Linked DNA regions of Homo sapiens: regions 1 and 2 are each reported to be linked to region 3. The links are microRNA targets in miRTarBase. Many come from high-throughput screens and were not tested one by one. Region 3 holds a microRNA gene; each other region holds the end of a gene's coding sequence.
Evidence for each region. The annotated mature microRNA hsa-miR-6729-5p reads UGGGCGAGGGCGGCUGAGCGGC and lies in region 3 at 1,609-1,630, shown strand. An mRNA with a match to its seed (bases 2 to 7 or 8) in the 3' UTR can be bound and repressed. Matches are read on the target gene's strand: a 7mer-m8 pairs with bases 2 to 8, a 7mer-A1 pairs with bases 2 to 7 and ends in A, and an 8mer does both.

Region 1 (3,000 bases), not on the chromosome of region 3:
CATACCCACCATGGACAGAAAGTGTGACCCAGGCATTAATTCTAATTTTCAGGATATGCATTTTACTCAGAGGCCTAATTTAAAACCAACAAAAGAAAACCAAAAATCTTCTTAGCCTATCAAGATAGCTATATCCTGATAAGCTAAGAAGTTATTTTGTTTATATCATTTTTTCAGTACTGTACTTCATGCCAAACTTGTTTATATCAAGAAGCGGGCTTCAAATATGCCAAATACTTTCGTCGAAGAAATACTGCTAGTTTTGGGCCAGGCGCAGTGGCTCATGCCTGTAATCCCAGCACTTTGGGAGGCCGAGGCAGGTGGATCACGAGGTCAAGAGATCAAGACCATCCTGGCCAACATGGGGAAACCCCATCTCTACTAAAAATACAAAAATCAGCTGGGCGTGGTGGCACATGCCTGTAGTCCCAGCTACTTGGGAGGCTGAGGCAGGATAATCGCTTGAACCTGGGAGGCAGAGGTTGCAATGAGCCGAGATCGCGCCACTGCACTCCAGACCGGGTGACAGTGCAAGATTCCATCTCAAAAAAAAAAAAAAAAAAAGAAAGAAAAAGAAAAAAGAAATACTGCTAGTTTTTCTCACGTGCATGTGTGCACATGTAGTTCATTTGCTTATTTAAGCCGAGGTTTTAACACATAATTGGAAGTCCTAAACTAAGGACTTTGGTTTACATGGAGTGCTATGGTACAATCTCGGCTCACTGCAACATCCACCTCTTGGGTTCAAGCAATCCTCCTGCCTCAGCCTCCCAAGTAGCTGGGATTACAGGCGCCCACCACCATGACCAGCTAATTTTTGTGTTTTTAATAGAGATGGGGTTTTACCATGTTGGCCAGGCTGGTCTCGAACTCCTGACCTCAGGTGATCCACCTGCCTCAGCCTCTCAAAGTGCTGGGATTACAGGCTTGAGCCTCCACAACCGGCCGGGTCTATATTTATTTTTAAAGAATTACTTCAGATGAAAATGTGTCATAAATTGCTGCTTTGCTGCACATAGTTACCATTATGTTGCTCATGTTTTATTGACTAGTTCTTGATCTTCAAGTACTTATACCTGGTGTCAGTATGCTTTAGGCATTCATGAATGACAGTCAACAACTGAGCTGAAGGTCATGGGGCACAAAGCTGCAATTCTTTTAATGGTGATGACAGTAACGTAAGTCTGATACACAAGCAGTATGTATTCAACACACTGATACCTGATAGCATGTCAGGAAAAAAGAATAGGCAATGCAGTTTAAGGGGGGAAAAACTGAGAAGTCATAACTACTCCAAAGATGTGCAGGAAACCACAAAAGACATGGACCTGCTTCTACTATAAAAAGAAAATGAAGCACTTCTCTGGGGTTGCTATACCAACTGTTTCAGCCCATTGTAGTCTTGCCTCTTTCAGGGCTTTAGCCACTATTTCATTTCATGGAAAAGCAGACATCTCCTAACAAACAGAGTGACATTTACCAAAATAAAGAGGGCTTCTCAGTGAGAAGCTTAATAAAGAAAAATATTTACCTATGCTTTGCACAATTTTCTTTTTTTTTTTTTGAGACGGCGTCTCGCTCTGTCGCCAGGCTGGAGTGCAGTGGCGCGATCTCGTCTCACTGCAGCCTCCACCGGGCCCGGGTTCACGCAATTCTCCTGCCTCAGCCTCCTGAGTAGCTGGGATTACAGGCACGTGCCACCATGTCCAGCTAATTTTTGTATTTTTATTAGAGACGGGGTTTCACCGTGTTAGCCAGGATGGTCTGGATCTCTTGACCTCGTGATCCGCCTGCCTCGGCCTCCCAAAATGCTGGGATTACAGGCGTGAGCCACCGTGCCTGGCCTGCTTTGTGCGATTTTCAAAAGCCATTATTTCTATTCAATTTTGGGTACTTAACTACAGTGCTGGATGTAAAGTTTATGCAGTAAAAGCTTATTGAATGAATGAATCATAGGATAAATAATACAACTAGTAATTTCTTAAGATCATAAATTCCATTACAGTAACCCTGGTAGGCAACTCTATAAAGTTCTGGGCTCCAAGAAGAGGTCAGTGCATGCCATAAATGTGTTTGATCTGCTGTGAAGTATATTCAGTCTTCAAAATGTAATGCTTACATGAGATAAAATCGGTTGGTTACCACCCCCAAATTAGCATATGCCAGCCTGCACAAAGGTAAATAGCAAAAACTTTAACTGCTCAATCTGAATTAACCAAAGATTCCTTCTAGGAATCTTAAAAAAAAATAAGGGTACGAACACTCCAAGCACTTATTTTCAGATGCATCAACTGACATAAATTAAAAATGGTACAAACTAATAATTGAACACCAGTAGCGTAACAAAATAGAATTTTCACTCTTTCTGCTTTCAGTCAAAGTGGTTTGCTCATGTTTGCTGAAATCAGAACTGAAACAATGAATAAAAAGAATAGATAAAAGTGGTTCTTCCATTAAAGTTCCATTCCCTGCCCTCAGCTGATGAGGGCACGAGAACTCAATGGAGCAGTTAGGGCAGACTCAAATCATCTCAGCTGGAAGCACTCTCCACTTAAACATACTCATCTGGCCCACCCTCATTTCAAATTTAGGCAAAAATGGCCTCCCTGAGGCTTTATGACTTGCTTTCTTCTTTTTCTTCTGATAGTGTTTCCCAGATTGGCTCCTTGATGTGTTCTGGTAACTGTTCTAATTGTGTCTAAAAAAAGAAAGAAACAAAACTATAATGTGGATTTAACAGAACTCTTTGACTACAAATCGGACTTATTAATTTGGTCAAATCCTCTTTACTTCTTTTTCTTTTATCCCCCTAGTCTTTCTATAGGGTTTTGAAATGGAAAGAAGGAAACTTGATGGTCTATAAAACACTCTCACATACATAATCGATTTGATCCTCAATGATCTTCATGGATTGCCACTTAATGGGATCCCCAGGTCTAGACAACTCATATTGAGGAGGGAGAACTTCATAGGTGGTTCACGGAGGACTTGGGCTGAAAT
Region 2 (3,345 bases), not on the chromosome of region 3:
TTTGGTTTCTTGTCAGTCAGGTAGAGATGTTTGTGTTGGAGGCTCCCTGAGTGGTAAGAAAATGAGCAGCTGCTCAGGAACGTCCACCTCCTTTTCTTCTCCCTACCCTCCCTCCTTGGGTAGAAACCAGATTGACCTGAAATGTAATTTGGTTCCTTTTGCACAGAAAGATGGAAGTCATGTGCTGTAGCCGGAAAAGCTGAAAGCCTGGGGACCGGAGCCAGAAGATCCGGGTTCCGGTCCCAGTTCTGCTGACCTTGCAGTGGGACGCCAGTTATTCCATGTTTCTGGGCATCTATTTCACAGAGATTGAACTGGACAATGTCTAAGTTTTCTTAGAGCTCTCAATCCTATAAGATGGACAGATGCTGAATTCGCTCAACAGTAGGGAGACAGACCTTTCCCAGCTCTGGGCATCTTAAACAGGCATGTCCTCTCTCCCTGCAGGCATCTTGGCCATCCTCATCCCCCGCCTGGACCTGGTCATCTCCCTGGTGGGCTCCGTGAGCAGCAGCGCCCTGGCCCTCATCATCCCACCGCTCCTGGAGGTCACCACCTTCTACTCAGAGGGCATGAGCCCCCTCACCATCTTTAAGGACGCCCTGATCAGCATCCTGGGCTTCGTGGGCTTTGTGGTGGGGACCTATGAGGCTCTCTATGAGCTGATCCAGCCAAGCAATGCTCCCATCTTCATCAATTCCACCTGTGCCTTCATATAGGGATCTGGGTTCGTCTCTGCAGCTGCCTACCCCTGCCCCATGTGTCCCCCGTTACCTGTCCTCAGAGCCTCAGGTATGGTCCAGGCTCTGAGGAAAGTCAGGGTTGCTGTGTGGGAACCCCTCTGCCTGGCACCTGGATACCCTGGGCCAGGTAACCTGAGGGCAGGGGAGAGGTGGGGTGGCAGACACGCAGAAGTGCTACTAGTGACAGGGCTGCCATCGCTCACCTGTACCTATTTACACCCAGAACTTTCCAGCTCCCCCTCATCATGCCTCCTCCTTCCTACCTGCCTCCCCTCTGCTGGTGCACCTCGCCCAACTCATTCTTACTGCACAGTTCACTTTATTTAACAATTTTCATGTCCCCCACCTCATGTTTTCACCTTTTCTGGGCCAGGCATAGATTAAGTAACTGGGAACGCCCCCTCTTTATAAAGCTGGGCTTCTTTCTCATCTCTCTCCCAAATGTTGTATCTCAGTATTCTTCCTATTCGAGTCTCCAGGGGGTGGCTGGACCTACCTGGTCATTTGAAACAGGCCCCCAAGCTGGAGTTTTTAATCTGGACTCTCTGGCTTGCTGTGACCCCTAAGGCAATGCTTCTCTTCCCTGGATTCCTTAGTGTGGGTCACAGTACTGTGTTCTTAGTTGCTTTAGCTCTTAAAACATACGAAGTGTTGCCTAAACTGAAAATATTTATCTTTTATTTAAAATCAGATTTTTGTTTTTAGACTGTCTTAGATCTGGGGCTATTACGAATCACTTCTTCTTCAGTAAACTTTGACTCAACTTCTCCTGCTGAAAAGAAGCTCGCTCCAGATGTCTGCATGGGTCCTCGGCACTCTTGGCTGAGGACTCAAAGGTTTTAATCAGGATCGTCTAAAAATGTACCTCGGTGAGGAGGCACAGATTTTGCCTCCTGTTGACCAGCCTGGTTTCATACCGAAAAGACATTGAAGGACTGCAGAAATGTATGGGTGCACCGGGCCGAGGGAAGGGTGGCTGAGTGAGAGGCGTATAAAATGGGGCTGTGTGCATGCAGGCCCATGTTTCAGCCTCAGCCCACGCCAGGTGAAAGGATCAGCAATGCTCTGTTGCCATCGTGCTGGGACGACACCAGCTCTATTGCCACCGATGAGTAGCTGAGGTCAGTGTGCACAGAGTTTGAAATTAAGTTAATAGACTTTACAGCAGCTGGTCTGACACTACGCGCAGTGCTCGGTTGTTTACAATCAGTGGGGAAAAGGGCAGAACCAGTGCCCGGCCCCACACTGCCTCTGTGGCCTGGACTTTGAAAGGAACCCACTGAACACTAATTATGAGCCCTGTCTTTCCCCCAGAATGCCTCCCTGGGTTTCACAAACAGCCTTGAGGTTGGCCCTCCTCAAGGTCAGCCTTCAGATTTGGGAGCAAACTTCAGAGAAGGCAGAGGAAGATACATTGCCTTGCTGTGGGCTGCCTCTTCTTTCCTCTTGGTGTGCGAAGTATTTCAGAAGGCCATTGATGAATTCCCCCTCTTTAGCTGTGTATTTGTGCACGTGTGTGTGTACGTGCGTGTGTGTGTGTGTTCCTGTGTAAGTAACAGACCAGACTCCTTTTCTCTTCTGTCCCGTCACCAGGCTCTTGCTTCACTGCAGATACAGTTCACTCTGAAAGCTGGTTGAAGGAGAGCAGCAAAAATGTATCAGGGGTTTTGCTTCTGTGTTTCGCCAAAGCTCATAAGGGCTGTGACCCACCCATATGGCCCCAGTTTTTTCTGTCTCTTCTGTTCCAAAGCCAGGAGAGCTGACTTCCAGGTGAAGGGATGGGAAAAGTGGACTCTCATTGTAGTGACTCCCAACCTACCTAATAATTTGTTAACTTAGGAATATGCTATCATTGTTGACTTGTTCTTCCTTAGGAGAAGGACGATTTTCACCCACCCTTTCTGTTCTATGGTGGACTCTTAACAGGTGCTATGTGACCAGGAATCTAGCCGGGAGTAGCAGAGGCCCTGTCTTCTGAAGTCTCAGGCTTAGAAGTTACCAAAGTGGGCTCAGAAACTGTCATCTCCTGGTTCCAAGTTCGGGCTCTGGCAGCCCAGCCGCTATCTTAGCTGTCTTTCCCAGCGGTGCTAAGAGTGGTCTCAGTGAGAAGGTAGATGCCAACTGGAGGGCCAGACCTGTGTCCTGCCCATGTCCTCCTTGGTGGACGTTTCTGTTTACTCAGAGCTGCTAGAGACCATCCTGCCCATCCGAGTTCTGAGATTGGGACTGTGATGTTGGGACCTGAGGACTGGATGGTAGAATACTGGGGTCCCCCAGCTCTTAGCAGGATGCAGGCTATTGCTTCCACACCCCTGGCCGTGAGAACGTGGTATGTAGGAGAGTTGGCTGTAGCTTTAGGATTTCTGGAAGCCAATTTGGCATGGCCTATTTGATCTCTGGCTTGTGCTCCTGCTACACTGACAGACTGATTGCGTGGCTCTTTCAGAAGACCCAGGAAGGGCAGCTCCAGCCAGAGGACCTTCCTGGCTATGCAGGTGCACAGCTCTTAGGCATCAAGCAAAGGGTCAGCCAGTCAGTAGTAGTGGGAGGAAGCCCTTCCTCCTCTTATGCAAGCAGCTCGCAGCCAGCCCAGAATCTCTTA
Region 3 (3,345 bases):
GGTCCTTGTTCTGACTGCTACACCCCTAGGCCTGGGACTCGGTCTTCTGACTCCTCCTCTCTATCTTCCCTCTATGATCTCCCAAACGCTGAGGTGTTTGGACACTTTCTCTACTTCTCCATTTGTATCTCTAGCCCGCACCTCTCCTCCGAATTCCAGACTTGTATATCCCACTGTCTTCTCCACATCACCATGAAGTTATTAACCTTCTGTCCGAAATCAAGGTCCTGATTTCCACTGCTGTGCTCCTCCTGCAGTCTTTCCTGTCTCCATAAATGGCAACTCCAAATACTAAATAGGTCAGGCCATAAACTTGCTGGATTTACCATCCAGCTACATCCTGATACACCCAACATAAGTTGAAAATACTGTTTAGGCCGGGTGCGGTGGCTCACGCCTGTAATCCCAGCACTTTGGGAGGCCGAGGCAGGTGGATCAGGCCAGGAGTTTGAGAACAGCCTGGCCAAGATGGTGAAACCCCGTCTCTACTAAAAATACAAAAATTAGCTGGGTGTGGTGGCGCACGCCTGTAATTCCAGCTCTGTAGGTGGCTGAGACATGAGAATCGCTTGAACCTGGGAGGCAGAGGTTGCAGTGAGCCGAGGTCGCTCCACTGCACTGCACCCTGGGCAACACGGTGAGATTCTGTCTCAAAAAATAAAAAAAGAAACATCCTAAGTCGAATCATGGTAAGTTGGGGGCTGCCCCTACCTCTCCCCAGCTGAATCCTAACCGATGCCTCTGCTTCCCCTCAACTTGAAGCAGCCAGAGGAGGAGTTCTGTAAAAATATGTGGCTGATGTGGTTGTGTCCCTCCCATTCCCCAGACCCTCCCTGGGCTTCTTAACCTCATCTCCTCCACCCTCGCTGCCTTCCTGCCACTTTCCCCTCCTGGCTGTTCCTCAGCTGAACCATGCACATGCCCACCCCGGGGCCTTTGCGCTTGCTCTTTCATCTCCCTGCGATGTCCTTCCTGGGAGGTCTCTGTGGCTTCTCCATGTCTCTGCTCAGGGTCATCTCACTCGGAGAGGCCTTCCCTGGTATGGCTGCCCGGCCATACTAGGCTCTGACGCTGCTCTCTTGCTTTCTGGCAGGTATCAGCATTCAGTCTTGTATCACGGGTTTTTTTTTTTTTGGTGGCTAGTTCATCTCTTGCCACCTTACAGTGTAAGCCTCATTAAGGCCAGGGGCTTTGTCTGTCTAGTTCCTGGCACATGAAACAGCATCTAGCCCTGTCATAAGGGCTCTGTCGATATTTTTTCCATGGATGGTTGGCTATGCATCAGGGTAGACAGACACTGAAACCAACCAACAGTCCCAGTGACTGGAGGGGCCCTCCTGGCCTGTTTGAGGCACAGTAGGGATGAAGCAGGTGGCCTGGGGTGCCAGGGCTGATCGTCTCTCCAAGCCTTGGCCGGTGGCCACACAGCAGCCCCCAGCCCCTCTCCCGTCAGCTGCCTGGTGCTTTGCCCACACCAGGGTCTCTGGACACCAGCTCTTCCATCACCAGCCAGCCTGAGGCCTTCTTCTCCAAGCTGCAGGAGTTTCGGGAAACCAACAAGGAGGAGTGTATCTGCAGCCATCCTGAGTGAGCAGGGGCGGGCGAGGGTGGGCGAGGGCGGCTGAGCGGCTCCATCCCCCGGCCTGCTCATCCCCCTCGCCCTCTCAGACCCCAGTTGCCAGGCCTGCGTGAGAGCAGTGGCAGCGGCGTGGAGGAAGACCATGAATGTGAGTGCGGGCCCTCGGCTAGGCCGCTGAGTAGTCCAGCCTCGCGCTGCCCTGGCCTCCCCTGCCCCAGAGCAGTCCCATTTGAGGTTTGGGGCCTGGGGAGGCCCCTGAGATGTTGAGACTCATGGAGGGAGGCCTGCAGTCTGGACAGGGTGGCCAAGCCCTGGTAGGGGTGGAGTGAGCTAAGGCCTGGCCACCGAATTAGGGGCTGCCCTGTGTGGCACCATCCCACCCTCCCCAGCAGTGCCCCTGTGCTGGTGGGACTCCATCCCAGCTCCTGAGGGCCCCAGGAGGATGTCCCTCCCCACCCCTTAGGGCGTGGGCCCCAGGTTCTGGGAGGAAAGGGGTTAGGAGGAAATGGGCCGAAGGGCTTCCCAGAGGGATTGGCAGCTTGTGTGGTTGGGGGCCGCTGAGGGCAGCACGGAGCCTGGGGACCTGGGTTCCTGGCTCAGGGAGAGCTGTGGCTTCTCATGGGCCTCGCAGGCGTGTACTGTTACCGTGTCAACCGGCGCCTGTTCCCGGTGCCTGTGGATCCCGGTACCCCCTGCCGCCTGTGCAGGACACCGCGAGACCAGCAGGGCCCTGGGACCCTGGCGCAGCCAGCGCACGTCAGGTGAGTGACCAGAGTATTGGGACACCTTGGGGGACAGAGCCTGAACCACTGGTTTTAAGAAAAGATGGGCCTGGGCGTGGGCCCCCAACCGCTGGGAGGCTCCTCAGGGGTCCCCCACTGCCCCCCTGCGCAGGGTGAGCATCCCGCTGTCGATCCTGGAGCCCCCGCACCGGTACCACATCCACCGGCGAAAGAGCTTTGACGCCTCTGACACACTGGCCCTGCCCCGGGTGAGCAGCCACGTGGGGCTGGATGGTGATGAGGGCGGGGCTGGCTCAGACTGGCCCAGATCCCCAGGGAGGGTCACAGAGCGAGACTGGGCTCGACAAGGGTGAGCGCCCAAGTCTCTGGAGCACAGCCTGGGCCTCTTCCATCACCCACACCTGTACCTAAGGGAGGTAGGACCCCCGCTCCACGTACCCCGGTGCTTCCAGGGTGATCTGCCTGCAGGCTGGCATGACATGAATGGGTCCTGTTTATTGCGCTTTTGTGTACTGCAGGCACAGTCCTTAGGGGGCTTATCTCATGGAGCCCCCACAGCAGCCAGGAGTGTAGGCACTGCTGTACCCCCACCCTGCAGGTGGGGAGACCGAAGCAGAGGGGGAGGCGCCTTGGTGGAGGAGCTGGGATTCGAACCTAGGTCTCTGTGCTGCTGCTGCTGCTTTTTTTTTTTTTTTTTTTTTTTGAGACCGAGTTTTGTTCTTACTGCCCAGGCTGGAGTGCATTGGCATGGTCTCAGCTCACTGCAGCCTCCACTGTAGTCCCAGCTACTTGGGAGGCTGAGGTGGGAGGATCGCTTGAACCTGGGAGGCAGAGGCTGCAGTGAGCTGAGATCTCGCCACTGCACTGCAGCCTGGGTGACAGAGTGAGACTCCATCTCAAAAAAAAAAAAAATGTCCTTTCCTGTGTCTCCAGGTCGGGATGGGGTGCCAGTGGCAACTCCCCCTGACTCCTAAATTGAGAGTAGGGCAGCTGGGGTCAGAGGAGGAGAAGGATGCAGAGGAA

Region 1: miRTarBase lists MRPS10 as a target of hsa-miR-6729-5p. The part of its 3' UTR that is shown has no 7-base or 8-base seed match.
Region 2: the mRNA of SLC36A1 is a reported target of hsa-miR-6729-5p. Seed matches in the 3' UTR shown: 8mer at 1,030-1,037.

Annotation. Positions count from the first base shown.
Region 1 is chr6:42,205,675-42,208,674 of GRCh38, forward strand. MRPS10 (mitochondrial ribosomal protein S10) reads right to left here. Exons shown (of 7, transcript NM_018141.4): 7 at 1,133-2,698. The coding sequence ends at 2,615. Among named protein-coding and RNA genes, the nearest start is that of MRPS10, 11 kb to the right of the region's middle.
Region 2 is chr5:151,487,536-151,490,880 of GRCh38, forward strand. It overlaps SLC36A1 (solute carrier family 36 member 1), which reads left to right. Exons shown (of 11, transcript NM_078483.4): 11 at 448-3,345. The coding sequence ends at 719. Among named protein-coding and RNA genes, the nearest start is that of MIR6499, 33 kb to the right of the region's middle. RefSeq lists an enhancer at 3,305-3,345.
Region 3 is chr1:12,027,555-12,030,899 of GRCh38, forward strand. MIR6729 (microRNA 6729) reads left to right here and starts at 1,604; the gene lies at 1,604-1,668. MIIP (migration and invasion inhibitory protein) reads left to right here. Exons shown (of 10, transcript NM_021933.4): 5 at 1,479-1,587; 6 at 1,669-1,727; 7 at 2,211-2,340; 8 at 2,474-2,570.